Linked DNA regions of Homo sapiens. The protein of the gene in region 1 binds, or shares a complex with, the protein of each later gene. Each region holds a gene or a part of one and is shown on either strand. Other genes may lie near its edges.

Region 1 (7,705 bases):
CCTAAAGGGCTGGACACAAAATGATTTTAGGTGGCCCATGCAAAACCATTTATTACTTTCCTAACTATGCATGAATTAATTTTTATTCCTTTTTTTAGACAGGGTCTCGCTTCGTCACCCAGGCTGGAGTGCAGTGGCTCAATCATGGTCCACTGCAGCCTGTACCTCCTGCCCCAGCCTCTCAAGGAGCTTGGGACTACAGGGGCATTGCACTCCAGCCCGGATGACAGAGCGAGACTCCGTCTCAAAAAAAAAAAAAAAATCAAGTGTTCACTACGCATCAGGTGCAGCAGTGTGTTAGCGGCTTCCCATGTGACCTCATTCAACCCTCACAAGAAGCCTGTGAAGTTTCGGGCATCCTCGTCCTACCTGTTTCACAAGTGGGGGGCCCTACTGCTAAGCGCCTCGCTTGAGGTTAAGCTACGATTTAGAGAGCTGGGTGTGAATTCAGGAGGTCTGATTCCAGAATGAGTACTCCTTACCACCACCCCACGCTAACCACCACCCCACACTTTGTAGGGGAGATGAGGACAACTGAGGTTCAGGAAACAATGGCTTGGAAAGTGCAAAAACTGTTCAAACAACTAACCTGTATCCCTTACAATCCACCCCCAGTCCTGCACCAAGCTTTCTTTTTCTTTTTTTTTTTTTTTTTTTTTGAGACAGTCTTACTCTGGTGCACAGGCTGGAATGCAGGGGCACAAGAATGGCTCACTGCAGCCTCCACCTCTCTGGCTCAAGCAGTCCTCCTACCTCAGCCTCCTGAGTAGTTGGGACCACCGGTGCATGCCACCACACTCGGCTAATTTTTGTATTTTTTGTAGAGATGAGGTCTCACTATGTTGCCCAGGTTAGTCTCAAACTCCCGGGTTCAAGCAATTTTCCCGCCTCAGCCTCCCCAAGTGCTGGGATTTCAGGTATGAGCCACTGCACCTGGCCCTGCACCAAGCCTTTTACACAGATGGTCACGCGATCTTCCACAGGACCCCCTCATTCAATCCACATAAGTTCGCTAAAGACCTACTATGTGTCAGGCCCAGGGTACTGTGGGGCCAGCCAGGCAGACACAACCCCAGCTCTCACGGTGCTGGGGGTGACAGCTACACCGGAAAGGACCAAGTTGATGTATGAATGTAGCTGAGGGGAACAATGGCTAGTCCGAGGTGGCCAGGGAAAGTCAAAATACAATCCTGGCGCAGTGGCTCACACATGTAGTCCTAGCACTTTGGGAGGCCGAGGTGGGTGGATCACCTTAAGTCAGGAGTTTGAGACCAGCCTGGCCAACATGGTAAAACCCCATATCTACTAAAAATACAAAAATTAGCCAGGCGTGGTGGCGGGCGCCTGTAGTCCCAGCTACTCAGGAGGCTGAGGCAGGAGAATCGCTTGAACCCAGGAGGCGGAGGTTACAGTGAGCGGAGATTGGGACTCTGAACTCCAGCCTGGGCGACAGGCAAGACTCTGCCTCAAAAACAAAATACAATCCTACACACCCTCCCTGATTTTGAGGCCCCCTCTTCCAAGCAGCCCCCGTGATCTCTGGCTACCACCGATCCCCTGCCTGTCCGCTGTGTCCCTCTCACAGTGCAGGTTCAGAGCAATAAACGATAGGCCAAGAGAGTTTGTTCCCACATTTACCACCCGCTCCCCTCCAAGACTGCAGAGGCTCCAGGATCCAACCCCCGACCATCCAACACTTAGTAGGGCCTCAAGAAGTTATCTGCTGAACAATGAGGGAGATTGGACCAGACAATTACAATAGTGCTTCCCGCTTGCGAGGAACCATTTTACAGGCTTTCACCAATTCCATTTGGGAGATTACCCCCTTTCACAAAGGAGCTTTCACAAAGGAGGAAAACTAAGAGGTTCAGAGAGGTTAAGCCACTTCCCTAAAGTGACAGTGTGCTAAGTGACTGACAGCACCAGGAATCAAGCTTGAATGCAGCCTATCAATCCAAACTGAAAACTTGCTTCAAATTCCTGCGAAGCGGCTTTTCCGCTTATTCCCTTGCTACTTTCCCCAAGGAGTCACTGACCAAAAAAAAAAAAAAAAAAAATCAAGACTGGTATCTTCAAGATCGGGACAAAACACTCGCCCAAAAGGTCCACGTTGAAAATAAAAGCCTTAATCTGAAAAACCAATTGGGAAGGAGAAAAAAGGATGCAAAAGAAAAGCAATGCTTTTACACAGCAAAGGATTTCCTCCGTGCTCCCCTACTTGCCGCCGACCCCATCCCCAACCCCAATTCGGGCAAACATTTTGAAGTCACTAACTGCAAGGCATCGGGGGAGTCCTTTACCTTTCCTTGAAAATCTGGAATGACACGTTTTTAAGACAATTTGAGGTCGGCTAGCCCAAGGGGACCGCTAATGCCCGTGTCCGGCCGACGCCGGACATATCTGGAGGTTTGGCTGAGCCCCGATCGCAGCTTCGCCAAAAACGCAACATTCGGGTCGGACCCGTTACCACGCAGCCAGAAAAGCCCCAACGCCTGCCTATTGTTGCAGCCGCTGTAATTGGGAGGGCGACTGTAGGGGTGCCGGGCGAGGGGGGCGAGCTTTGTCCGGCGACCCCGGCGAGAGCGCGCGCGGAGAGGATCGCGCGGCCTCCACGCGGCCCGGGCCCCCCACCCACCCCGCCGCTCCGCGGGGGCCGCCGCTGCCACGGCCTCGCGACACTGTGGCCTTCCCCACGCGCGCGGCTGCCGGCTGGGCTTCTTGACCCTCGGGCGCCGCCGTACCCCGGCCCCGCACAGGGCGCGCCGGCAGCCCCCTCCCCCCTCGGCGCCCCGGCTCCATTCAAACCGCCCTCCCCGGCCCCGCGCCGCGCTGCCCCCGCGGCCCGCGTTCCTTACCAGGAGCCGCCGGCGCCGTCGACTTCCCGGCGCCTCCCCCGCCCCTCCGCGCGGGGCCGGGGGCAGAATGGGCGTCTCGCTTCTCTTCACGAAACAAAGAAGCCGCCGCCGCCGCCAAACGAGGGGAAGCCTCGCGCGCGCGCCCGCCCGCCTCGGCCACCGCCCCCCCTTCACACACACGCGCGCCACCCGCGCCCCCGCTGCGCGCGCGCTCGCCGGCTCCCCTCCCCCTCAGCACCGCGGCGGCCTCTCCAGCTTCCGCCGCCTGCCCGGCCTCGTGCGCGCGCCAGCCCGCCCTTCCGCTCCCGGCGCGCGTGCGCGCCCGTCCCTGGGCGGACGGGGGTGGGCGTGGCCCGGAGGAAGCACGCGCGTCCGATGCACCGCCCCACTCGGGCCGCGATGGCCCCGCGCCTGCGCACGCTTCGCCTTCTGCACGCCTCGCGTCTTGACGCCCCGGAGCATGCGCAGAGCGGACGCCACTGCGGCGGCGGTGGCGGCGGCCGCGGTGACGATGGGGCAACTGGAGAATGGGATCCCGGTGGCCGTGGGGTCCGTGGGGAAAGGAGGTCCCTGAGGCTCGGAAATAGGAACCCTGGACCGTAGGACGGGCCGCCTGGACCAAGACCGGGCAGTGGTTTCCCGCGGGCCAAGGGCGCGCCTGGGAACCGCTTTGATCCCTGACCTGGGGCGGCGAGGCCTATTTGGGGAGGCAAGGCGGGGCCCGACCGTGGCCGCCTTCTCTGCAAAACTTCCCAAGTGCCATTAATTAGCTTAGCAAATATTTATTGATCTGCTACTGTGTCCCAGCCGCCGTGGAGCCCTCGGTCTAGTGGGGAAGGAGGACAAGAAGCAAGATTAATAAGCAAAATAGTGCAGTATGAGAGGCCGGACTTGGTGGCTCACGCCTGTAATCCAGCACTTTGGGAGGCCGAGGCGGCCGGATCACCTGAGGTCGGGAGTTAGAAACGAGCCTGACCACCATGGTGAAACCCGTCTCTATTAAAAATACAAAAATTAGCCGGGCGCGGTAGCTCATGCCTGTAATCCCAGCACTTAGGGAGGCCTAGGCTGGTGGATCATGAGGTCAGGAGATGAGACTATCCTGGCTAACACGGTGAAACCCCGTCTTTACTAAAAATACAAAAAATTAGCCGGGCGTGGTGGCACACGCCTGTAGTCACAGCTACTCGGGAGGCTGAGGCAGGAGAATCGCTTGAGCCCAGGAGGTGGAGATTGTAGTGAGCCGAGATCGTACTATTGCACTCCAGCCTGGGCAACAAGAGTGAAATTCCGTCTCAAAAAAAATAAATAGTACAGTGTGAGGTGAACACTGGGAGGATCATGGACATTTTAAATAGGGCAGCCACGGAAGTCGTCGTTGCAAAGAACACGTTTGAATGCATACAGGCTGGTGGTGAAAGAGAGAAACCTTCCTCCGAGAGTGAAGGCCCTGAGCCTCTTGGCCTCTTCTGTGTGTTTTCTTTTTTGTGTGTTTGTTTGTTTGTTTGTTTGTTTGTTTGTTTGTTTTGAGACGGAGTCTTACTCCATTGCCCAGGCTGGAGTGAGGTGGCACGATCTCAGCTCACTGCAACTTCTGCCTCCCAGATTCAAGCGATTCTCCTGCCTCAGCCTCCCGAGTAACTGGGACTACAGGCGTCCGCCACCACGCCCGGCTAATTTTTGTATTTTTAGTTGAGACAGAGTTTCACCATGTTGGCCAGGCTGGTTTTTAACTCCTGACCTCAAGTGATCCGCCCACCTCAGCCTCCCAAAGTGTTGGGATTACAGGCGTGAGCCACCTCACCTGGGTGGGTTTTTGTTTAATTGTTTGTTTTATTAGAGACAGGGTCTTGCTCTGTAACCCAGGCTGGAGTGCAATGGTGTAACCACAGCTCAGTGCAGCCTCAAACTCCTGGACTCAAGGGATCCACCTCAGCCTCCCAAATAGCTGTGACTACAGGTACATGCCACCACCACCAGCTTTTTTTTTTTTTTTTTTTTTTTGTCTGTTATGTTCTGTAGAGCTGAGGTCTGCTGTGTTACCCAAGCTGGTCTCAAACTACTGGGCTCAAGCAGTCCTCCTGGCTCAGCCTCCCAGTGCACTGGGATTACAGGCATGAGCCACCAAGCCAGGCCCCAGAAGGACCTGGGTTTAAAACACGACTCCATTTCTACTACCTGGGTGATGCATGGGTAATACCAGGCAGGTTTACCAGAGCATCTACACCTCACTTTCTTCACCTGTGAAACAAACAATAAGGCTGGGTGCGGTGGCTGACATCTGTAATCCCAGCACTTTCGGAAGCCAAGGTGGGCAGATGACCTGAGGTAAGGAGTTCGAGACCAGCCTGGCCAACATGGTGAAACCCCGTTTCTACTAAAAATACAAAAAAATTAATTAGCCAGGCATAGTGGCAGGTGCCTGTAATCACAGCTACTCGGCAGGCTGAGGCAGGAGAATTTCTTGAACCCAGGAGGTGGAGGTTACAGTGAGCCAAGATCATGTCATTGCGCTCCAGCCTGGGTGACGAGAGTAAAACTCCATCTCAAAAAAAAAAAAAAAAAAAAAAAATGCTGGGCCCAGTGGCTCACGTCTGTAATCCCAACACTTTGGGAGGCCAAGGCAGGTGGATCATGAGGTCAAGAGATTGAGACCATCCTGGCCAATGTGGTGAAACACCATCTCTACTAAAAATACAAAAATTAGCTGGCTGTGGTGGCGCGTGCCTGTAGTGCCAGCTACTCAGGAGGCTGAGGCAGAATTGCATGAACCCAGGAGGCGGAGGTTGCAGTGAGTCGAGCGTGCCACTATACTCCAGCCTGGTGACAGAGGGAGATTCCGTCTCAAAAACAAAACAAGACAAAACAAAAAAAACCCACCAGAAACAATAATGGCTCCCACTTCCACTGTTTGGTTATGAGGAATCATGACAGCAGGTAGCCCACCTGCTAGCTCTCTGATCCTCAGCTAGTGTTATTGAATAGTGCACAGTAAGTGAGCAAGTAGAAGTGGGATCTGAACTCGATTCCTCATTCATTCAAGTAGTTATTTTTTTGTTTTTTTGTTTTTGTTTTTGAGACACAGGCTTGCTGGGTCATCCAGCCTGGACTGCGGTGGCACGATCAGTACTCACTGTAGCCTCGACCTCCTGGGCTCAAGCGATCCTCCTGCCTCAGCCTCCCGAGTAGCTTGGACTACAAGGGTGGGACACCACACTCAGCTAATTTTCTTAAAATTTTTTGTAGAGACAGTCACACTATGTCGTCCAGGCTGGTTTCAAACTCCTGGGCTCAGGTGATCCTCCCACCTCAGCCTCCCAAAGTGCTGGGATTACAGGCGTGAGCCAAGGCGCCCGGCCAAATAGTATTTCTTATGCTCTCTCCAAATGCTAAGCATTGAGCTAGGAATACCCTGCAGCAATGCATGGAGGAGGCAGGGTTGCTGCCCATGGAGTGGATGGTATGACTGTTCTCTAATTGTCTTTTATGCTAATCACACTAATATGCAATAGTGTAAAGAAAAACAGGCCGGGCCAGGCGCGGTGCCTCACGCCTGTAATCCCAGCACTTGGGAGGCCGAGGCAGGCGGATCACCTGAGGTCAGGAGTTCAGGACTAGCCTGACCGACGTGGAGAAACCCTGTCTCTACTAAAAAAATACAAAATTAGCCGGGTGTGGTGGTGCATGCCTGTAATCCCAGCTACTTGGGAGGCTGAGGCAAGAGAATCGCTTGAACCCAGCGGGCAGAGGTTGCGGTGAGCTGAGATCATGCCGTTGCACTCCAGCCTGGGCAACAAGAGCGAAACTCCGTCTCAAAAAAGAAAAACAGGCCGGTTGTGGTAGCTCATGCATGCCTATAATGGCAGTACTTTGGGAGGCCCAGGCTGGCAGATCACTTGAGGACAGGCGTTCAAGACCAGCTTGGGTAACATTGTGAAACCCCATCTCTACAAAGCAATACAAAATTTGCCAGGTGTCTCAATTAAGAGCACAGTTCTTAATAATGAACTGCCCCTGGGACCTTGGCCCCATGTCTGCATTGACACCCTTGGCTTCCAGACTTTAAAAAAAAAACATCTACAGGCTGGGCGCAGTGGCTCACGCCTGTAATTCCAGCACTTTAGGAGGCCGAGGCAGGCAAATCACAAGGTCAGGAGCTCGAGACCAGGTCAATATGGTGAAACCCTGTCTCAACCAGGCACGGTGGCTCACGCCTGTAATCCCAGCACTTTCTCTGGGATCGCAAGGTCAATATGGAGTTCGAGACCTGGTCAATATGGTGAAACCCCGTCTCAGCTGGGCGCAGTGGCTCACACCTGTAATCCCAGCACTTTGGGAGGCCGAGGCGGGCAGATCACGAGGTCAGGAGATCGAGACCATCCTGGCTAACACAGTGAAACCCCGTCTCTACTAAAAATACAAAAAAATTAGCCAGGCGTAGTGGCAGGCGCCTGTAGTCCCAGCTACTCAGGAGGCTGAGGCAGGAGAATGGCGTGAACCCGGGAGGCACAGCTTGCAGTGAGCTGAGATCCCGCCACTGCACTCCAGCCTGGGCGACAGAGCGAGAGTCTGTCTCTAAAAAAAAAAAAAAAAGAGAGACCCCGTCTCTATTAAAATACAAAAATTAGCCAGGTGTGGTGTCAAGCACCTGTAGTCCCAGCTACTCGGGAGGCTGAGGTAGGAGAATCGCTTGAACCCAGGAGGCGAAGGTTGCAGTGAGCCAAGATCACACCACTGCACTCTAGCCTGGGCGACAGAGACTCCATCTCAAAAAAAAAAAAAAAAGAAGGGGAGGAGAGGGCAGGGCAGGGGAGGGGAGGGGAGAGGAGGGAACGGGAAGTGGGGGAGGG
Region 2 (7,784 bases), on another chromosome or scaffold:
AAGTGTATTCAACACTTTCACTTTACTTTCAAAAGTCTTACTAGTTTATATATGAAGACTATTCATTTACATATGGATTTTGAAATTTCTATTTGCTAAATTTTCTGTTTCCAACCTTTTCAGTTAATTTCCCCCAATTATCTGCAGAAAAGTATTCTTGCTTTTTTTTTTTTTTTTTTTTTTTTTGAGACGGTCTTGCTCTGTTGACCAGGCTAGAGTGCAGTGGTGCAATCACAATTTACTGCAGCCTCTACCTCCTGGGCTCATGGGATACCCCCATCTCAGCCATCCAAGTGGTTGGGTCTACAGGCATGTGCTACCATGCCTGGCTAATTTTTGTACTTTTTGTAGAGATGGGGTTTCACCATGATTCCCAGGCTAGTCTCAAAATCCTGGACTCAAGCGATCCACCTGCCCTGGCCTCCCAAAGTTCTAGGATTACAGGTATGAGCCAACACGCCTGCCATCTTGCTTCTTTATTGTCAATATTTTTACTGCTTTTGTTTATCTAACTACATTGGCTAATTTCAAAAAATATTAAGTAACACTAGAACAGTAAGCCCCTTTGTCCAGTGTGTAAATTTAAAAAGGAATTTGTTTTATAGGCTTCAGGCTTGAGACACAAATATGAATTTAAAAAAAAATTACACTAGAAGAAATACCTATTGAAAGTCTTAAAAAAAATCAAGATGGGTTCTCTACCAAATAATCTTTCCTTTGATCTAATGGAATAATGAATGAAATTTAAAGATCTCCCTAACTTTGAACAATTCTTGCTTTCTTAGAATGAATTCCCACTTCTTGGTCATGTTGTTCTCAAAGAAGTAATTTGATTTCACTTACTTTTTCCCCCAAGTAATTTTTGCATCAATATACATGAATAAGACTGAGTTGCAGTTTTTTGTTTTTATTTTTCAGGTTGTGAAATCAAGATTATCTTGGCTTTGCAAAACAAACTGGAAATTTCTTGTTCTCCCTGCTCTGAAACAGCTTCAACAGTATAATAATCATAGGTCCCTTAAAGAAAAAGTCACCTATGGAACTGTCTGACCTCAGTACTCTTTGGGGTCAGTTCTATGATACTTTAAAAAATTTCTTCATGTTGTTGTACATTCTGTATTATATCTCTTCTTGATTCCATTTTGGTAATTTGTAATATCCTAGACAATTAGCCATTTTATTTAGGTTTTCAAATTTATTAGCAGAAATATACAGTCTTTACATTTCTTCCACATTTATTTATTTATTTATTTTTTGAGACAGAGTTTCGCTCTTGTTGCCCAGGCTGGACTGCAATAGCACGATCTCGGCTCACTGCAACCTCTGCCTCCTGGGTTCAAGCGATTCTCCTGCCTCAGCCTCCCGTTGGGATTACAGGCACCCACCACCTCACCCAGCTAATTTTTTGTATTTTTAGTAGAGACAGGGTTTCACCACGTTGGCCAGGCTGGTCTCGAACTCCTGACCTCAGGTAATCCACCCATCTTGGCCTCCCAAAGTGCTGGGATTACAGGTGTGAGCCACCGCGCCTGGCCTTCTTCCACATTTTGTGTCGAAGTTTAACCCCTTTCTTTTCCCATTATTAGATAGTTGGCAGTTTATCTAATTGGACTTGTCAAATAATTAGCTCTTAGATTTACTTTAAAAAAATTTTTTGTTTTTTTGAGACAGAGACTCACTCTGTTGCCCAGGCTGGAGTAGAGTGGCGTGGTCTCAGCTCACTGCAGCCTCCGCCTCCCAGGTTCACGCCATTCTCCTGCCTCAGCCTCCTGGGTAGCTGGAATTACAGGCACGCGCCACCACACCCAGCTAATTTTTGTATTTTTAGTAGAGATGAGGTTTCACCATGTTGGTCAGGCTGGTCTCGAACTCCTGATCTCGTGATCTGCCCGCCTTGGCCTCCCAAAATGCTGGGATTACAGGCGTGAACCAATGCACTTGGCCTGATTTACTTTTAAATTATAATGTACAGTTTTGAAAGTGTAAATTTCTTTCTGTTATAGTTTCCTTCTTCCTGTTTGGCTAAGGTTTTGTGTTGTTGCTCTTTTTCTAAGTTTGAATACTTTATTCATTTATTTTCTGGAATAGGTGTTTTGAGATGTAAAATTTTTTCTGTGTGGCTATTATCTGCATACCTTTTCCAAGTTAAAATTGTCTTCAGCTCGACTGTCCTCTGAGTTGTCTGTATTCTTCTCATCATCACCTTTATCTGCATTTGCAAATACAGAGGCCACGCGAACCACAGGCAGAGGCACATCCCGAGGGACAAACCTGACTGAGCTGATGGGCATGGTCCACAGTTTAATTTTCTTAAAAGATTTGGTTTTGGCAGAATACCGTGATTCACAGACAAAAACATCCTCATCTCGGAAGTTTTCTGGGCATAACTTAAAGTATTCCTGGGGGGTGGGGAGGGCATAAGAATAAAACTAGTTAGGTGAATTTTCTGAAAATCAATCAAAAAAAAAAAAAAAAAAAGCAAATAACCAACCAACCAAACAAAAGCTGAACTGATTACAGACTTTCTGGCAGTTAACAAAAAATAATAAATGACCAGAGATTTAGAAGTATTTCTTTGGCTACGGAATGGACTTATTATATACACACCCTTTAAATTATAAAAACAAATAATTCCATTTAGCTTACAATTGCTCTTTGAAAACATATGAACATTTCATATAGCTATAATGTTCCTTAAAGCTTTGAAGAGGGCTTGTGTGTGTGTATCAGACAGACACACAAAAGCACACATTATTACCTAAAAAACAAACTGAAAATTTGTAATGATTATCCTTAAAAAAACATCATACTTAAAAATTAGCCTGGCAATATTAAAAACTTAACCTAACTGCATTATAGCCAAATAGTGTAAGCAGCAAGTGGTCTTTCACAACGAAGTTCAGGTTAATTTCTTCCCAAATCTTTTCATATAGCTATATAGACACGGCTTAAAAAATAGCTTAAAACAGAGTTCCTAATTTTGTAAACATCGATTATTTTCTGTGTTTTAAAATTTTATTCCTAGGGAATGAGTGAGACTTTGGGATTTAATGAGTTTCTTACCTTGACAAACATGACCACACACTTGCCTAGAATTTTACTAACTGGAACTTTGTTGTAATAGTCACTCTTAAAAACTTCTTTTTCTAGAAATTTTCGTGTAGCCAGGTGGAATGTTTCATTTGGTCGGTAAAACCAACAGCCATACAACCATTTTTCACCTCAAAAATGGGGGGTGGGGGAAGGGGAAGAGAAAGAGAATCATTGTTAACAGAAATCACTTTTTTTTTTTTTTTTTTTTAAAGAGACTGGGTCTCACTACGTTGCCCAGGCTGGACTTGAATTCCTGGGCCAAAGTGGTCCTCCAACCTCAGCCTCCTGAGTAGCTGGGACTACAAGTATAAGTCACTGTGTCCAGCTCAGAAATCACACATTCTTTGCAAAATTAGGAAATACACCATCAATCCACTCTGCCATGACATGAACCTAGCACTGTGCTTATTTTTACAGCTACAGTTTAATATAATTATCCACAGGAGAAATAATACTCAAAAATAATAAAGTGTAATGAGGCCTAAAAAATGCATGCTACTTTTCCCCCCTCATATATATATATATACACCCTCAACCTCTTGGGCTCAAGTGATCCTCCTGCCTCAGCCTCTCAAGTTGCTGGGACCACAGCAAGTGCAATCACACCCTGCTGATTTTCTTATTTTTTCTAGAGAAGGGGTCTTGCCATGTTGCCCAGGCTCTTCTTCATATTAAAAGCCATATAAAGTACATAATGAGGAGGACAGGTGATGAGACCTGCTCCACTCTGCTCTGGTTAGTACATACCTAGAGTTGTGCACTTTAGTAAGGGGACAGATATGCTACTGAAGGACATATTTAGCTCTCTGGTGAAGGAATACAAAAGTATTTCATGTGATAGGCAGCTCAAAGAACTGGATTGCCTGGATCACATTTCCACCAACTTCTGGCTTCATTAATTTCTATGCATACTCCATGTCTCAATTTAAAGGCAACTGTTCTAGAAAGCCTTTTTGAAAACAAATGCTAAGCCAAGGCATGTCATTCTATAATAATTTCTTTTTTGATCATAATCTTCCTTACTGGAGTAGTTTTGCAAGGGAAAATATGAGCTTTTTGTTCTTCTGAATCTATGTCACTCTACATAAAGTTTGGCTCAAAGTATGTTTTTAATAAGTATCAAATGAATGAATGAATCTCAACCAGACTTTAAGAAGCTGTATTTCTTTCTTTTTTTTTTTTTTTTTTTTTGAGACAGTCTCACTCTGTCACCCAGGCTGGAGTGCAGTGGCGTGATCTCGGCTCCCTTGCAAGCTCCGCCTCCTGGGTTCACGCCATTCTCCTGCCTCAGCCTCCCGAGTAGCTGGGACTACAGGCGCCCGCCACCAGGCCCAGCTCATTTTTTGTATCTTTTTAGTAGAGACAGGGTTTCACTGTGTTAGCCAGGATGGTCTCGATTTCCTGACCTTGTGATCTGCCCGCCTCAGCCTCCCAAAGTGCTGGGATTACAGGCGTGAGCCACCGCGCCCGACCTAGAAGCTGTATTTCTTTTGACTCAACTGTGACACTTGCCCAATAGGTCCTATGTTTTTCATATGATGGGTGCTTACTTACATTTATTGACATATTGAACAATTATTATGGAAAGGCTTAAGATGTCTGAGTTAAAATTTTCTTCCCTGAGGAGCAAGGAGAAGTCAAACAGTCATATCTCACTAAACTGTCCTTTGATTTAAAACAAACTTACCAGCTGAATCCTCCCACAGTCTTTCAATACAGACGATATGTGGTTGTAGGTTGGCCTCTGCAGGTTCCACATAGACGTAATCTCCAACATGGTACATGCTGTTTTTAAAGCTACAGTCCTGGCTGTATGTGCGATGTAAGCCTGAGAGGCCTGCAGCACCAGAGGAATCTTCACTCTTTTCAGCTTCTTAGGTAAAAAAATAAATAAATAAAGGAAAAAGGTACTCACCAAAGGGATGCTGAAGTCAGATGTAGGGTTCAAACAACACATACTAATAATACATTTAATACATTTAATTCCATTTGCAACATGCGAAGGCAGGAATCAGCAATAGTATGATCTTCACATTCCTAATAGCCTCTACTCAAAACTATCTTTGAATTACAACCATCATTAATTTAAATGAATATATAACTACACAAAGGATGTAGAGAATAAAAACATCACCTTACTAATATATGATCATATGGACATTTTGGATAATATCGAAAGGCACAAAGAAGTACGTATGTCGTTTCGAATCAAGTAATTCTAGAGATAATCTCTGATATACTTCATCCCCACCTTAATGCTTCTTAATGTGTTTCATTTCACTAAGTTATTACACGAATATGACACATTTAATGGAGTCTTAGAATTGAAGAAATATAGAATACATATATTCTACAATATACTATAAACTATATCTAGTATATATACTTAATATATCAAGAACACTAGCCCTGAGAGGAAATGCTTTTCAAAATGACTTTTATTTTTATTTATTTATTTTTTTCGAGACGGAGTTTCGCTCTTGTTGCCCAGGCTGGAGTGCAATGGCACAATCTCAGCTCACCACAACCTCTGCCTCCCAGGTTCAAGCAATTCTCCTGCCTCAGCCTCCCGAGTAGCTGGGATTACAGGCATGCACCACCACGCCTGGCTAATTTTGTATTTTTAGTAGAGATGGGGTTTCTCCATCTTGGTCAGGCTGGTCTCGATCTCTCGACCTGAGATCCGCCTGCCTCAGCCTCCCAAAATGCTGGGATTATAGGCGTGAGCCACCGCGCCCAGATGACTTTTATTTTTGTTAAGTAAAACTTATTAATAGTTCCAGTACAGGCCGGTAGCGGCAGCTCACGCCTGTAATCCCAGCACTTTGGGAGGCCGAGGCGGGCGGATCACTTGAGGTCAAGAAGAGTTCAAGGCCAGCCTGGCCAACATGGTGAAACCCCATCTCTACTAAAAATATTAAAAAATTAGCCAGCATGATGGCAGGTGCCTGTAGTCCCAGCTACTTGGGAGGTTGAGACAGAAGAATCGCTTAAACCTGGGAGGTGAATGTTGTAGTGAGCCAAGATCAGGCCACTGCACTCCAGCCTGGGTGACAGAGCAATACTCCATTTCAAAAGAAAAAAAAAAAAGTTCCAGTACAAGCTATCGTTTGCAAATATCACAGGGTTTTTATTGAGGATAAAGCTTTGCCCAAATCTTTGATTACTTCCTTAGGTTAATTTCCCATAAATGGAAGAGCTAATAATAAGCATTTTAAATGTTATTTATTTTATTCCTCCTGAAACATTAAATTTTCTTTTTCTTTTTTTAGACAGTCTCACTCTGTCACCCAGAGTCTTGAACTCCTGACCTCAAGTGATCTGCCCGCCTTAGCCTCCTAAAGTGCTGGGATTACAAGCGTGAGCCACCGTGCCTGGCTATCTAAATTTTAAAATAGTTTTTCTAGTTCTGTGAAGAATGTCATTGGTAATTTCATACGATTAGGACTGAATCTGTAAATTGCTTTGGGCAGTATGGCCATTTTAATAACATTGATTCTTCCTATCCATGAGCATGGAATGTTTTCCCATTTGCATCTGTCATCTCTGATTTCTTTGGGCAGTGAGTAATTCTCATTGTAGGGATCTTTCACCTCCCTGGTTAGCTGTATTTCCAGGTATTTTATTCTTTTTGTGGCAATTGTGAATGACAATGCGTTCCTGATCTAGCTCTTGGCTTGGCTGCTATTGGTGTATAAGAATGATAGTGATTTTTGTATACTGATTGTGTATCCTGACACTTTGCTGAAGTTTATCAGCTGAAGGAGCTTTTGGGCTGAGACTATGGGTTTATTAGATATAGAATTAAGTCATCTGCAAAGAGACGTAGTTTGACTTCCCTCTTCCTATTTGAATACCCTTTATTTCTCTCTCTTACCTGACTGCCCTGGCCAGGACTTCCAGTACTATGTTGAATAGGAGTGGTGGGAGACAGCATTCTTGTCTTGTGTCAGTTTTCAAAGGGAATGTTTCCAGCTTTTGGTTATTTCAGCATGACGTTGGGTGGCTTTGTAATAGATGGCTCTTATTATTTAGAAGTATGTTTCTTTAATACCTAGTTTATCTAGAGTTTTTAATATGTCAAAAAGCCTTTTCTACATCTATTGAGATAATGTAGTTTTTGTCTTTGTTTTTTTTTTTTTTTTTTTTTTTTTGAGACGGAGTCTTGCTCTTGTCTCCCAGGCTGGAGTGCAGTGGCATGATCTCGGCTCACTGCAACCCCCGCCTCCCAAGTTCAAGCAATTCTCCAGCTTCAGCCTCCTGAGTAGCTGAGATTACAGATGCCCACCACCATGCCCGGCTAATTTTTGTATTTTCAGTAGAGATGGGGTTTCACCATCTTGGCCAGGCTGGTCTTGAACTTCTCACCTCGTGATCCACCCGCCCCGGCCTCCCAAGCTGTTGGGATTACAGGCGTCAGCCACTGCGCCCGGCCTTTTTTTTTTTTTTTTTTTTTGACATAGTCTTGCTCTGATGCTCTGATGCCCAGGCTGGAATGCAGTGGCGCCATCTCGGCTCACTGCAACCTCTGCCTCCCAGGTTCAAGCAATTCTCCTGCCTCAGCCTCCCAAGTAGCTGGGATTACAGGTGCCCACGACCATGCCCGGCTAATTTTTGTATTTTTAGTAGAGATGGGGTTTCACCATCTTGGCCAGGCTGGTCTTGAACTCCTGACCTTGTGATCCACCCGC
Region 3 (7,784 bases), on another chromosome or scaffold:
CTCAGGTGCCCCCGGGGTCACTTCAGGGCCTCCCGAGGGTGACTGTGCTGGGCCCTGAGCCAGAGCCCCTCATGGCAGACAGGGTTGTGGGGTCAGCCTTGTTTTGGGGATGGGGAACTGGAAGGACAAGGACCACCTGCAGTTCTCAGCTGGTGGACCCTGGTGGGCAGGGCCCACCCCAGGCCTGGCAGGGCCCCGCTCCTCGCGGCCTCCCTGGGCTGCAAAAGCTCTAACTTGTGTCCTTTGGTTGTTGCCTCAGCTGAACATCCATGTGGGAAACATTTCCCTGGTGGACCAGTTTGAGTGGGACATGTCAGAGAAGGAGAACTCACCAGAGAAGTTTGCCCTGAAGCTGTGCTCGGAGCTGGGGTTGGGCGGGGAGTTTGTCACCACCATCGCATACAGCATCCGGGGACAGCTGAGCTGGCATCAGAAGACCTACGCCTTCAGGTAGGATCATGCATGAGTCTCTCCCTCCCTCATCTCCCTGCAAAACTGTTTTGAGAAAGACTTCTCTGTGTGAGCGGTGATACCTTTGAGGCTTTCTCACGCTTCGCAGCACAATCTGGCTGGGGTCTGTGTGTTTGCTCCGTCCTCCTCCTGCCCTATGTATCTCTCCAGGGCTCCGCTGTGCCAGGTAGGGTTAGAAGCACCTAACACAATAGCTGGCAAAGACTTGGAGTTCTGTCAGGGTGAACCTCAAGTCCTTGCCTCCACGGAGCCCTGGCCTGCCCCCACCATCCACCATTCAGTTGTCCTGCCCCACACCCTCTCTCTCTGCTCTTGCCCAGACTGTTATTTTGGTCAGGGTGACCCCTGCCCAGGGTTCTTCATCTGTTGAACTTGAATTATGTCTTAAACACAAAGGCCCGCCCAGCTTTTGAGAGTCAGGGGTCCCTAGCAGCTCCTTCTTACTCTAGTATCTCTGCCTTTGGTCAGTCAGAGAGCATTTGATGAGTACCATGCTGGGCTGGACCCCATCCTGGCTGCCCTGGAAGATAGAGACAGGTCACCTTGATCCCTGCCTGTAGCATTTGGGCTGGCTGAGATGGTGGAAGTGTGAACAGAATATTCCAGTCCAGTGTCCTCTGTGGTAGGGATGGGGATGGACCCGGGAGAGGCCCTCCTGTTCCTGGCAGGAGGTGGGACTCAGAGTTAAAAGTGAGGTCAAGGCCCAGTGCGATGGCTCACACCTGCAGTCCTAGCACTTCGCGGAGCTGAGGTGGATCACCAGAACCCAGTAGTTCAAGACCAGCCTGGGAAAAACATGGTGAGACCCCACCTCTACAAAAAAAAAAAAATAGAAAAAATGAGCCGGGCATGTTGGTACATGCCTGTAGTTTCAGCTACTCAGGAAGCTGAGGTGGGAGGATCGCCTGAGCTCAAGAGGTGGAGGCTGCAGTGAGCCAAGATCACACCACTGCACTCCAGCCTGGGTGACAGAGCGAGACCCTGTCTCCAAAAAAAAAAAAAAAAATAGCGAGGTTGAACTCTCCCGGCTCAGCAGGACTCTAGGACTGGGAAGCCCCGTGGTTCCTCACCCTGTCCTCTGTGTTGGGATGGGGTGGGGGTGCAGCAAGCATCCCTACATCAAAACAGGATGTTCAGATTTAGTCTGCTCATCAGACTATCATCATCCACATCTGCAGTCATCACTCAGGGATGACAGCTTAAAATGCTACATGAGGAGCAAATAGGAAGGTCTGTTTTGCAAAGCCATGACAATTAATGGAGCTCGTTAGGTTTGTGTCTAACTTGTTTTCCCAGACATCCCAAGAGACAGCTTTCTATGACTTCCCATAAATCTGAGCAAGGAAGAAGGAATGAGAGCCACCCACGGGGCTCAAGGGCCCGGGCCTGGGAAACAGCTGAGTCCCTGCCTGAGCGCCATGGTGCTGAGATCCTGTGACCTGCCCCCCAGCAGCCCTGCCAGTCACATGGTTCTGCTTCACAGACAGGGCAGCCCAGAGAGGAGGCTGGGGGGCTGGTGTCTGATGCCTCCCTGTTCCCTCGGGGTGTTGCCTGGGAGTGCAGCTGTAGCGTGCATTCACCCTGCACAGAGCCAAGCCCTATGGCCGGAGAGCCAGTCAAGGGTGGCCTCCCTCCACCAGAGTTGACTCTGAGGCCCCGGGAGGCAGTCATGTTGCGCGCATCAACACTGAGCACCTCCTCCCGCAGAGGCTGATCCAGTCAGAACCCTCGTCTTGGGCTCACAGGTGCAGGTGGTAGGCTGGCTGCCCCCAGCATCCAGCCCCTACGGTGTTGACCTTCACCTAGTCCTGCAGCCGCTGCCAGTGCCCACAGTCCAGGGTCAGGAACTGAAGTCCCCGGGGCCTCTTGACAGGTCCTTGCAACATCCCTTCTTTCAGCCACCATGGCACCATCCCTCCTGCTCTGACCCGAAGGTGACCTGAGCCTAAATTCCTTTCCAAGTTCCGGGCCCTCTGCAGTTTGCAGAGTGGCTCCAGAGCAGACCCCCTGGGGAGTCCCTGGTGGTGGCAGGTCAGGATTTAGAGGCAGAGGCGGGCCCCTTCTTTATCTCATCGACCACTTAGTGCATTCCAGTTGCAGGGCCTGGGGGCATCACAGACCCCCTGCCCCCTGCTCTCTCTTATGCTGAGAATGCAGGTTTCAAATCTTTGGGGTTAAAGGCAAAGGCCATCCCGCTGGGACCAAGGTGAGCACACGTCCCTATCACAGCAGCCAGATGGAGAGGCGGCCTGCCTGGGGAACTGGGAAGTGTCCTGAGTGGGCTTTTAGCATCAGGAGGGCTGCGTGTGTCTTCCCAGTCCCCACACTGGAAGACAGCTGCAAGGATAGGACAGGGCCTTAGGGTTGGGCTGTCATCCCTGACTCCAACTCGCGTTCCCCCCACTGTACCACCCCACCCCATGGGATCTTAGGAGGGACTTCGTTTAACTCTGTCCCCAGGGAGACCAGTGTCAGTCCTGCCTGGCCCTGCCTGGGGAAAGGAGGCTGGGCCACTGAGTCCCCAGGTCCAGGGGCCAGTCAGCCCACAGAGAGCTAGACCAGGAGTCCTGGCCTGGTCTCTGCCACACAGAAAGCTTGGCAACTGCTGTGTCACATGACTTTTTGTTTTGTTTTGAGATGGGGTCTCGCTCTGTCGCCCAGGCTGGAGTGCAGTGGCGTGATCTCGGCTCACTGCAAGCTCTGCCTCCTGGGTTCACGCCATTCTCCTGCCTCAGGCTCCTGAGTAGATGGGACTACAGGTGCCCGCCACCACGCCCAGCTAATTTTTGTGTTTTTAGTAGAGACGGGGTTTCACCGTATTAGCTAGGATGGTCTGGATCTCCTGACCTTGTGATCCACCCATCTCGGCCTCCCAAAGTGCTGGGATTACAGGCGTGAGCCACCGCGCTCGGCCACATGACTTCTTAAGAAGGGTTTTCAGGCTAGGCATGGTGGCTCACGCCTGTAATCCCAGCACTTTGGGAGGCCGAGGTGGGCGGATCACCTGAGGTCAGGAGTTAGAGACAGGCCAACATGGCAAAACCCCGTCTCTACTAGAAGTAGAAAAATTAGCCAGGTGTGGTGGTGGGCACCCGTAATCCCAGCTACTCGGGAGGCTGAGGCAGGAGAATTGCTTGAACCCGTGAGGCGGAGATTGCAGTGAGCTGAGATTGCACCATTGTGCTCCAGCCCGACAGAGCTAGACTCCATCTCAAAAAAAAGGGTTTTCAGCTCTGGACCTAGGTCACTCCATAATGGAAGCACTCGCTGATTCCCCAAGAGCCAGTCCCTCCATCTCTCCCAGCCAGAGCTCAGTGCCTGACTTCCATACCCTCCTCGGCAGTGGGGACATTGATTGGATCCATGGTACAGTGGGGCAAGCTGCTGGCCACAGGACATGTGTGTGCAAGGCCACTATGCCCACACCTCAGGGGAACCAGGGCAGAGAACAGCCTGTTCCCTTTGGCAGTGGGACAGACAGGAGACAAGCATGAAGGGGAAACAGGGGCATGTGACAAACTGGTCAGAAGCCCTAGGCTCCTAGAGGACAGACTGGGACCAGAGTGACACAGGCGTCCCAGAGCCAGTGGAGTGGGATGAAGGGCCAGCGAAAGGAGGGAGACAGGGCTCAAGGGGAAGGAGGCTGGGCTAGGCAGAGCCTCTGAGGAGAGCTGATCCTGCAAAGTTACTGGCACCTCCCCTGGGCCAGCCCTGTGTTCCTGGCCAGGGACGGGAGGAGACAGTGCCCTGTCTGGCAGAGGAAACAGATTCATGTGCATGACTATCAGTGTGCCATGGCCACAGAAAGCACCGGAGGCTGTGGGCATGAGGAAGGGCAGTTGGGGGCATAGAACCTGGGGTGAGGATGGCCAGGGCAGGTGCTGATGGGGGACTGCAGCAGGAAGGACCGAGAGGAGACCAGGGACAGGCAGGTGCTTGAGAAGGAAGGTGGGCCCTGTGGATCAGGCAGGGTATCTGCCCCAGGGGGCTCTGCACACCAGCAGTCCTACACGTACAGGGTGGGGATGAAAAGAGACTAAGGGTCAGGGAGCTTGGTAGCTGGGCCTGCATGAGGGACAGAGAGGCAGTGTCCCTCTGATGGCACAGCATCAGGAATTAGGCTGGGGTATGTCAGGTACACGTTGGGCTGGTTGAGCGTAAGCCTCAGGTTCCTTCCGAAGCTCTGCCCGCCAGCCCTGGCCTGATGTCAGGTTTTGTTTGTTTTTTTAACAGCTTTATTGTGATATAATTCATAAACCATACAATTCACACATTTAGAGTATATAGTGCAGCGGTTTTTGATATATGCAGAGAGCTGTGTAACTATCACCACTGTCAATTTTAGGACTTTTTCATCACCCCACTGCAGGCAGTCCCGTTCCTCCCCGCTGTCTCTCAGCCCTAGGTGTCCACTCATCCACTTTCTATCTGTAGATTTGCCTATTCCGGGTACTTCATAGAAATGGAACCATCTAATATGTGGTCTTTTATGACTGGCTTGTTAGCATAATGTTTTCAAGGATTATCCATGTTGTAGCATCTTTTATCAGGACTTCATTCTTTTTTATGATTGAATATTATCTCATTGCATGGATATACCACATTTTATTCATTCATCAGCAGATTGACTTTTGGGTTGTTTCCATTTTTCAGCTATTGTGAGTACTGCTGCTGAGAACATTTGTGTATGAGTTTTTGTGTGAACATCTGTTTTCAATTTTCTTGGATATATACCCAGGAGTAGAATTGCTGGGTCACGTGACAACTCAGTGGTTAGCATTTTGAAGAATTTCTAGACTGTTTTCCAAAGTGGCTGCACCATTTTGCATTCCCACCAGAAGCGTGCGATTCCCGTTTCTCTGGATCCTGCTGGCATTTGCTGTTCTCTTTTTGATCGTAGCCGTCTGAGGAGGTGTGAAGTAATTGTGGTTTTGATTTGCATTTTTCTAATGACTGATGATATTGAGCATCTTTGCATGTATTTCTGGCTGTTTGTGTATCTTCTTTGGAGAAAGTGCTTTGCTAGTTTCTTAATTGGGTTTTATTTTATTGTTGAGTTGTAATTGTTCTTTATATATTCTACATAGAAGTCCCTCATCAGATAGATACATGATTTGAAGATATTTTCTCTCATTTGGAGGATTGCCTTTTCACTTTCTTGATAGTGTTCTTTGAAGCACAAAAGTTTTCATTTTGATGTAGTCCAATTTATCTTTTTTTTTTTTTTTTTTTTTTTTTTTTTTTTTGAGACAGTCTCGCTGTGTCACCAGGCTGGAGTGTAGTGCTGTGATCTTGGCTCACTGCATCCTCCGCCTCCTGAGTTCAAGTGATTCTCCTACCTCAGCCTCCCAAGTAGCTGGGACTACAGGCACCTGCCACCACACCCAGCTAATTTTTTGTTTTTAGTAGAGACGGGGTTTCACCATGTTGGCCAGGATGGTCTCCATCTCTTGACCTCATAATCCGCCCGCCTCGGCCTCCCAAAGTGCTGGGATTACAGGTGTGAGCCACTGCACCAGGCCTGTAATTTATATATTGTTTTAGTTTGTTGCTAGTGCTTTTGGTTTCATATCTAAGAATCCATTGTCAATCCAGAGTCATGTTGCCCCAGCACCATGTTGAAAACTGCTCTTCCTCCATTGAGTGGACTTGGCACCCTTCTAAAAATCATTTGAGGCTCCTGGCGGCCTCGGAGGTGTGAATTGCAAACATAAGGGTGACACCAAGTTTTGGCATCTCCCCTTCCTGGTCGAGTGGCTGTGGACAGGTCATTTTCCCTTGAAGTCTGTATTTTGTCATTTGTAACTTGGGGATAATACTTGTGTGTTGCATCACATGAGGTCATGAAAGTGAGATCACATTGAAAGTAAACCTCAAGATACTCGACCGGCATCAGTCCTGGCTCCCTCTGTCCCTCAGACGTGAGCATCCCCTGCCTGGGTATCTTTGTCCCCACCTGGACACTTTGGGTGGTAGGAAGGTCTGGGGTCCCTGGCGGCTTCGAAGCCCGTGAACCAGAATTCCCTGGAAGGAATGGGGAGCAGGGTGGCTCCCAGGGTCCCCAGCACTCTTTGGAACTCAGGACAGCATCTCCATGCCCACATGCCCCCAAAACCCAAGGCAGGCTAGTGCTGGCTCTAGGCCCGTTCTTACATGGTTGGTGCGAGCATTTCTTACTTTAGAACAAACCCACTGGAGTGGAATATTCCCAGCATCAAGGGGAGGTAAACAAAGGACCCTCTGGGACCCACTCGCCAGCTCTTGTTTAAGAGGAAAACATGTTTTGCTCCCCTCGTTGTGGGCTTGGTACCTTTCACGTCTGCCCTCCAAGGAAGGCTGCTGGGAGCCCTCACGGTGAGGAATGATGTTTGGGGTCTGAGGCTAGGGTGGTCCCTAGACTGCTAAACCACCCGGTGCTGGCCAGGGACCAGCTGTCAGGAGCTGCTGAGGATGGGTCAGCCCCAGAGGGTGGGGGTGCCGACATTGCCTCTGGCCCTGCCTCTGCGTCACCAGTACGAGCTTGAGCTTCTGCGACTCATGAGCATGGACCTGGTGGGCTGAGCTTCAGCTGTGAGGGGTCAGGCCTGCTGCAGGGAGAGCCAGCTGCAGCCAGTGCCCTGCGCTGTGCCCACAGTCCCTGAGACCCCAGGCTGAGGAGAGCAGCACTGAGCCCAACCTGGAACGGGCTCACGGCTACTGGAGCTGGGTGTGTGCTCACTGGTGTGGATGTGCAGAGCCGGGACTCGCTCTGCAAGCAGGCTGGTCCCACAACCTTGAGCCACCCACTACAGGGAGGCTGTGAGAAGGTCCCTGGCCCCTAGGAAGCTCCCTCAGTGGAGATGTTTTGGCTGCTTTAATAACAGTCATCCTTCCAAAGCCCTTCACAGCAATAAATGTTTCCATATTCCAGATGAGGTTTGCAGGGACCTGTCCTCTCTATCAGTGTCCACCTGGCGCCTCCCCCGAGTCCGGCCTGCCCTTGCTTCTCCCAGAGCTCATGGTGTTTTTCAGGGCCGCAGGCTGGCAGGGTGTCCTTCTCCCAGGGGACTGAGCCTAGGGAGAGCCAAGTGGAGGTGCCCAAGTGGAGGAGAAAGGAAAGGACCACAGAGAGGGGAGGGGAAGTGGGAGAGTCATGGTTAGGACCTCAGGCTGAGGCCTTCTGCCAAGCCAGGGGTCTGGTGTCACTCAACTGGGAAACACTGTCAGCACCCAAAGCTGCTCTCAGAGGTGGGGGTGACGGGACCACTGCATGTGGGAGGCACACGGGCCCTGTGGCATCCACAGCTGTGGTCTCCTTAGTGTCCTGTCACAGA
Region 4 (7,784 bases), on another chromosome or scaffold:
AACCGTATTTTTTTGGACCTTTCCTCTGAATATGCACAGAAAAGCTGGCTAAGCCGATCTAAAGTTGGATGTTAAGCAAAGAAGCAGCAAAGACAGTGTCCTCACTCCTTACCAGGTCCTAAGCACCTACCTTTCTGCTGTACCTCATGTAGGGCATCAGCGGCTTATCTGGTGGCTTTGGGGGTTTTGGAATCGTGATACCAGAGGATGCCTACGAAAGAGTTAAATACATTCATTATTCAACTGTAAGGAGTTCACTGGCAAACTGAAAAGAGAGTCCCTTAAAAAATTCTAATGCGCCTTTCTTCTATTCGTCCAAATATTTTCTTCACTGAAAATAGCTATCACTGCAAATTCAGAAATGTTCAAAAGAAAATGACTTTAAGCACATAATTTTTAAATGTTTTACTTAGCAGTTTATTGCCAATGCTTTGACAACCTGGCTGCAAGAACAAATAAAATATTACACAGTAACCCATACATTGAAAATATATGGTTATATATCAACCGTCTCAAGTTCAGGACATTACCTGGTACCCTCTTATTCTGCTCAATTACCATTACACATACAGTCAACACTTGATTATCTGCAGCAGGATCTGAACCCTTAACACTTACCATTCTCACACTGTCTACAGGGGCCTTAACCTATTAGCACTAGGAATGTACTCCCAACACCACCACAAAAACAACTTCCCAGGTTCAAAAACAAAAACAATTAGTGAAATAACAAACCACCTTACCTCCTTTGCCAGGCTAGAGATTTTATTTCTCTTAAGGTTCTGTCTGTTACCTAGTGGTTTTCTTGTAAAGGGGAATGAGAAGTGTGAATTAAAAGTCACACATTGTTTTGTCCTGAGTCCTAATCACAGTGTAAAAGCAAACAAGTTTATCAGGAACAGAGAAGTGGCAGATATCGGGCCTGATTACGTTATTTTTGAGGTCTTATATCAAGAAGCTCCATTCCATTAAAAATGTTCAGTTTTATGGGAAAGACAGAGGAAAAGGAAAGATGTGATGTACAGGAAAAGAGAGACAGAAGAAAAGGAGGCGGAGGGAAGACTGAAAAATATTTTTTAAAAAGGTAAAGCAAAAATAGGTGAAAGAAAAAATAAAAAAAGAAGGAAAGAGAAAGATAAAGTGATCAGTTTTTCCTGTGGCTTAAAGTCTAGGTGAGATTCCAGACAGCCTCTGGTAGACCACCCAGATAACACCCATCTAAAAGTATCTATTTCTGAACTTTTTAGTCTCCTGTTAATATACATGACTGCATTTGATTAAAGACCCAGAATAAGAAAAATCATTGCTATTTCAGACAATTTGCAAATTTTCAGGAGATCTCTGATATTGACTCTCCCTGCTAGGCTGGAGAAATGAAGTGTTGGCTTTATTTTAATTATCGAAAGACAGGATTGGCAAATCCTTATAGGAAAACTAAAGTAACATTTTGTTCGCTTCCCCTTCTGTTGTTGCTATGATAAAACCCCAGAGATACTCCTCCACTCTGGGCTGGGACCCCAATCATAACCTTATTTTTCATTTGAGGGCTCAGGGATTAGCATGTTTGTGTCCTTTTCCACTATGATCAAGAAATGTTTCCTCTTCCTACAAGGGTCTCTCTCCATCCCTATAACTCTACTTCTTCAAAGCATTTCGCCTTGGAAGCAGTATTTCCTCTCTTTCCATTCCTCCCATGCATTCTTGTCACACCTCATGCTAGTGCCCAGGTAGACAGACACTGTTTTTGGCCAGCAGTGGGTAAGAGAGTGAGATGGCCAGGGGCATGGAAACTGTCAAAAGTGGTAGGATGGGCAGCCAATACAGGGAAACCTGTATCAGGGTCTATAGTTCTTTCAAGGGGAAAGAGAATTCCTATAAGACTAACCTTATGGATTCAGAGGAACAGACACACACAAGTCTGCTTCTTCACACATAAAGTTACTAGAAAGTATTTCCAACTCATATCCAACACAAACCTTCAGAATTCCATGAAATGGATTACAAATAAAGTTGGAATTGTGCCCATAACTGAGGTGGTAAGACCACTGTCAAAATTTTTTGAAATTAAAGAGGTAAAGAATTCTAAAATGCCTATGCTTCCGAGCTTTAATATGAATTAAAACACTTTAAAAACACAGTAGTATTTGCTCTTTGATATTTTTCAAAGAATCACATTTTATATTAATGGAATTGCTATTTCCCCTCCTTTCTCCCAAAGAAAGGTACACAAATCATCTGTATATTGAGACCAGTCAACTTACAACAACAACAACAAAAACCCAAACTAAAAAAACACCCCAAAACAATAATAAAGTTAAATTCCAGATGGTTTTCAGGATAGTAAAGATTTATATCATTACACACCTCCAATTTATTTAACGTCTCAGACAGACATCTTTCTACAATGTCTTAAACATTTCTTTAAAAAAAGCTGAACATACTTTAGACCCTTTCTGGATAAGATTCAATTAGAAACAACCACTGTTTTGCTGTGCTGTAACCCTCTGTCAGATGTCAAAATCTGTTGTTGACTCTTTCAACGGCCTAGGGGCTATGCTTTTGGAGAATGTGTTTCCATTTTTGAACTGTTTCTTTCCTTGCTACTATCAGGAAACCCACCTCTAGCAGCAACTCTCTTTCCAATTTTCTGCTTTCAATTTCCAATGGGGAGGCGGGTAGAACTGTGCTTACAGAAGAGCAAGGTCCTAGGAAATCTCCTATGAATAAAGTTCATGGTTTTGTGAAATTTATCTTGGTTACTCAGTTTTTTGTTGTTGTTTCTTTTGCAATTCTCAGCTGTTTCTCTAGCAAGAACTTATTTAAGAGCTTTCTTCTGGGGCAGAATTTCTATTAATGTACAGAAATAGGCTGTTTTTAAAGACATTTTTGTCTCAATGTGTTTTCACACCTGTACTTAAGAGAATGTTAATCATCATCTGAATGAAGAACTGACTAGGAGTGAATTCCATCTTGTAGCTATCATAAGCACTCCAAAAGGTCTCGACATGCTATACAAAGTATTTACTGTCTGAGAACTACCCAAGTATACTGGAGTCATCAGGGAAACCCAATGTTCTCTACAGCCTACCACAAGCTACTGGACAGGGCTTCACAGATTCGTTCCTTGAAAACCACTAATGCAATCTGCGCACAACAATACCATACAGGAGCTTCCCCTCACCCCCAAAAGTAATGCATAACTAGGGTCATAGTAAAATCAAAATGCTTTTATTATGGTCAAAATCAGAGCCATTGAGTCCTAACAGCTTAAACTAGATATAGAAAGCAGGGCAAGTAGTGTAAAACCTCCACATTTTCTAGGCCCTTCTTCATATAGCAGTTTGATTATACTTCAATTTGGTGTTAAGAGGACAATAATACAAAGTAAATGTCCACAAAGGACCAAAACACCAAATTTTCCATGTCCAACAACTCTCTATAATTAATCTACTATGTAGCTAGTGTCCACGCCAAATGTTCAGTTCTTAACATTCGCCAAGAAGGAATGGGAAGAAACAGATGAGTGACTTCAGATAGGGAGTACACTTTCTCTTCCTAGTCTCCATCGAACAATCTCACTTTTTTAACTGAGAATCCCCCACAGCTACATCCAAGTTAAGAGCAAAATACTTACACAAAACCAAAAGACAAATTACTGTAATATTATAGTTATCATTTCTATTCCATTAACATAGATAATCAAGAGGTGACTGTATAGAGCTATTAAATGCAATCATTCTTGTTTACTGCCCGTGAAAAAATTGCTGCATTAACATTAAGATCCATGATTGATTCCGTTCATTGTTTAAACTGAAATGTTCTTTATCATTTGAAAACCTTGCCATCCATTACACTTGTGAAACAACATGTTTAGGCCAGGGAAAAACATGTATTGATGCACATAAAAATTGTATGCATTGTGAAATGCATACATACACACACTTTGTCAGAATTCTTTTTCAGATACCATGAAATATGCATGGCACATAAAACTTGATATGCTTATGAAGTACATATTATGCAGAAACAATGAAAAATTTAGACAAACAAAACCTATCAAGCTAAGCAATATGCTTATCAAGATAGACATTCATTTGATAGCTACAAGCTTTCAGTTCCAGCTTGACTACAGGGTGAGAGGGCTTTTTTGAAGTTACATTAATAGAAGGCACTTGTTATTTATGAATACAGCAAACAAAAACCAGGTATTAAAAACTTTACAGCCATTCTGGGTTGTATAAATTCTCACCAACACTACATTCCAATGTAGTATTTGACTTTTGGATTTTTTATCTTTAGTAAGTCATTTTTATAATTATTGGCATTTTTTGGTGCTTAAACTTTTTTGAATGAAATTTAAGATGATTCTAAACTAAAAGATTTGAAGTGTATCATCCAATTTTGATATCTTAGGCTGATCACTTAAATGAAACATGCTAAGTTTCAGAAATCCTATCTCTTATACTAAGGATTAGAAATGCACTTCTCGTTGTACATATCTAGTCTGATACTTCAAATTAATTTCATTCAACCTTCACTCTGCATTTCTTTGAGGTGACATTAAAACGTTTTTCTCTTTTTCACTGTAGAGAAATGAGTCTTAGTTAGAAGGTCAACTACTAAATCCAAAAGACAAATAACTATGGGTAGCGATTCAAACTGGTGTACCAGCCAAAAGCTTTCCAGCCCTGAAAAAGCCAGGTCTGAAAGACCAGCCTCTACTAGAAACTCAATCCTTGAGACTAATGCCAATCACCTTATAAAAATGAAAAATACTCTTTATGTCAAAAAGGATATTTTTACCTTAAGAAATTCTGTTTGTTTACATACAGTATAAGCATCAAGTGCTCAAGGCTTTAACCCTACCAACCACCAAACAGAATGGATTTTTCTTTTCTTCTATATACATTCCAGATCTCACTATTTATTTTTTCAGTGTGAGATGCTACAACGAATGTTGAAAATACTCAAAAAGCTAGGTTAAAAAATTTTTTTTAAATGGCTGTGCTTATGATTCAAAAAGACCTAATTCTGAAGGCATTTCTGGTCAATTCCAGTTGTTTGCCGGATGCTGTAATAGTTGATTCTCCTACCGTGACCCGGCTGTTGGTGCCCGGGTTCCCTCCCAGCCTGTAGTTGTTGTAGGCGAGATGACTGTATGGATTGTATCCCACAAACCCTGGTGTGCTGGGCATTTGCTGATGGAAACAAATGAGACAAAAACACGAATGAGAAATGAGCTCAAACGAGGAAAACACAGAAATGAAAAATGATCTGCATATGGCATGCAAAAGCAACCTGAATTTAAACAAGCAATGATGTGTTGTAATTGTTCTTTTTTTCCACTGAGGAAATTAAATATTTTTCTTTCATTGAGAAACCTGTCTGCAGTGTCTTTTGGTTGTTTTTCTCTTTCTTTTTTGCAGGGGCTGGGGGTGTTTGTGTGACTGTGAATGTGTGTTTTGTTTTTTGAGGTAAGCAACACACTGAAGTGTTTAAAACATTCAGGATTACTTTATGGTCAACAATAGGATAAAACAACTTAGCAATATATGAAGACTGAAATAGGAAGGCTTGAAGTGTGATCAACTAGAACTCTGAAAACACTACATGCAAAACAAAATACAATTTATTTGACATGTGGATGCCACCAATGTATTTATCTACTAAAAACAAAAAAAAGAAATGGATCTGATTTCAACGACAGTTTTAAATCATTTTATATAATGTGAGAAATGAGTAGAGACTCAAATCGGGAAGCCAGGATTTGTCAATTGAAAAGAACATATGTTGGATTTGATGGATGTCACATACATGATTTAAAACAAAGACTTGTAAGAAATGCATGGATTTCATTCTGGGGTACTATCTGATCTTTTTAACCCAGTCATTCTTTTATAGGATTTCTCTTCCATTTCTTCTTTGATCCATCTTCCACTGGTCAATCATGAAAACATTTCTGCATTTTGTCTCAATGTGAACTACTTTTCTAGTTTATAGACTTCTTTTTTCATCTAGTTTCCTGATAGCTCTCACCCTTTCAAAATACAACTGCTCATTTCAGCAACAGAACCCTTGGTTTTTGTGAATTATGTGTTGATGTAATCACAAATGGGCTCTTATATAGCAGTAGCCTTGGGGCTAATACAATGACACTCAATGTTCATGAGAACCAAGGCATAATGCATAGAAAGAATATAGTAGAGAGAGACCAAAATTAGGGTATTTTACCTTGTAAAATTCAATCAAAATATGTGACAATTTCATTTTTACATGCAATTAACAATATCGGTCCTTAATTGTATAATGTAAAATACACTTAACACATTCCAACTAAGCTGTAGCTGTTACAAAATAAACACAATTTCCTAAAACATGCCGCTGCACATATCCTTAGTACCCAAAAGAAAGACATTTAAGCAGATATTACATTTGATACTCTTTAGGAGAAAAGAGAACGGCTGATCAATTTCTAGTCTATACAGTTAGAAAAGACGCAAATAAAGCATATTTAAGTAGGCAAAACACAGTTGAAGTATCAAAGGCATGAAAGAAGTGTATATTACTTGCAGCGGTACATTTGGGTGGCAGAGGTGATAGTGGTGATAGTGTTGGTAGTGGTGGTGATGGTGGTGGTGGTGGTAGAAGTAATGGAAAGAAAAAAGGAAGAAGAATAATTCATTTAGTATCCATTCTGTTGGATGTTTTAATCCCTAGTCTTCTATATTTTGTGTGTTAATGTGAAACTATAATGACACAAAAATATAACTAAAGAAAGGCAAAAAAAATTCCTTTTTATGCATAATAAATTATAAGGGGACACTTGGTTTTTGAAATATTTTAATCTCAAAAAATCAAGTTTGTCAAGATGATGCATTGTCAGAGGCAGTATTTTTGTCAAAATGACACCTTCAAAGGTAGCATAAATAATAAGAATCACTGTTCAACATTATGAGGCAATAATGTTATAAAAATAAGGGAACTAAAAAAAAAAAAATGGAAAGCAAAACATTATAATTATACCATTTCCAAAGCTGAAGTACATGGTTAGCTCTTTGAGGTCAGAATCTCAATTGTTCAGCTCCACCTGTATAGCCACTAGCAGAATGCCATGGAGATGGTCATAACAAATGTTCTTCGATTTAAGAAAGAAAACAAAGCAAGCATAGGACTTTATAGTCTACTGGAATTAACTTTAGAGCCTGTATATGACATAAATTGAAATGAGAACATATGGTACGGTATCTCTTTTCTAAAGTATCTCACTAAAGAAAAACAAATTGTTGATAAATGTAACTAAAATATGTATCTGAGGGTTAGTAAATATGAGTAGTTTTTTAGCGGAGAAAACTAAGTTACACAAGGACCTAATTAGTAGTGAAAAGTAGACTAGCCTGAAATTTAGGTGGTGGGGGTATGGAAGGAAGGATTAATATTAAAGAACTAATTTTGTAGAATTTGGTCATGCTAACAGTGTTTTTTTAAAAACAAACAAAACCCCCCCTCCCAAAAAACCAACAAGGAAGCCATTTCAGCAAGACCTGAACAGTTACTGCTAAATCTGTTTTGTGGGTTGGAAAATTATTTTACATGCTGACCAAGCTGGGCCAGAGCTTCCTGGGTGAAAAAACACGTTCACAACTACTTAAAACATATATACTTCCAAACCAATAAAATATAATTTATGGAGTGGAATAAGATTCAATAGCAAGATCTGCCCCATAGATAATGAAATCTTTACTTGAACAGCTTGAAAATATTTACAATGAGTAGTTTCAGAAGCT

The links.
Region 2: SMARCA4 (region 1) and PBRM1 share a complex: the UniProt entries of both Homo sapiens proteins name them as parts of the SWI/SNF-B (PBAF) chromatin remodeling complex.
Region 3: SMARCA4 (region 1) and SMARCB1 share a complex: the UniProt entries of both Homo sapiens proteins name them as parts of the BAF complex.
Region 4: SMARCA4 (region 1) and SMARCE1 share a complex: the UniProt entries of both Homo sapiens proteins name them as parts of the BAF complex.

Annotation. Positions count from the first base shown.
Region 1 is NC_000019.10:10,956,325-10,964,029, reverse strand, and holds the start of SMARCA4 (SWI/SNF-related matrix-associated actin-dependent regulator of chromatin subfamily A member 4), read right to left. Parts: upstream 3,001-7,705; 5' UTR 2,856-3,000; intron 2,721-2,855; exon of another isoform or gene 2,301-2,720; intron 1-2,300. UniProt on the Homo sapiens protein: ATPase involved in transcriptional activation and repression of select genes by chromatin remodeling (alteration of DNA-nucleosome topology).
Region 2 is NC_000003.12:52,584,290-52,592,073, forward strand, and holds part of PBRM1 (protein polybromo-1), read right to left. Parts: intron 4,967-7,784; coding exon 4,781-4,966; intron 3,222-4,780; coding exon 3,064-3,221; intron 2,400-3,063; coding exon 2,136-2,399; coding exon of another isoform or gene 2,124-2,135; exon of another isoform or gene 892-2,123; intron 1-891. UniProt on the Homo sapiens protein: Involved in transcriptional activation and repression of select genes by chromatin remodeling (alteration of DNA-nucleosome topology). Required for the stability of the SWI/SNF chromatin remodeling complex SWI/SNF-B (PBAF).
Region 3 is NC_000022.11:23,824,966-23,832,749, forward strand, and holds part of SMARCB1 (SWI/SNF-related matrix-associated actin-dependent regulator of chromatin subfamily B member 1), read left to right. Parts: intron 1-259; coding exon 260-450; intron 451-7,784.
Region 4 is NC_000017.11:40,637,362-40,645,145, forward strand, and holds part of SMARCE1 (SWI/SNF-related matrix-associated actin-dependent regulator of chromatin subfamily E member 1), read right to left. Parts: intron 5,199-7,784; coding exon 5,094-5,198; intron 212-5,093; coding exon 131-211; intron 1-130. UniProt on the Homo sapiens protein: Involved in transcriptional activation and repression of select genes by chromatin remodeling (alteration of DNA-nucleosome topology).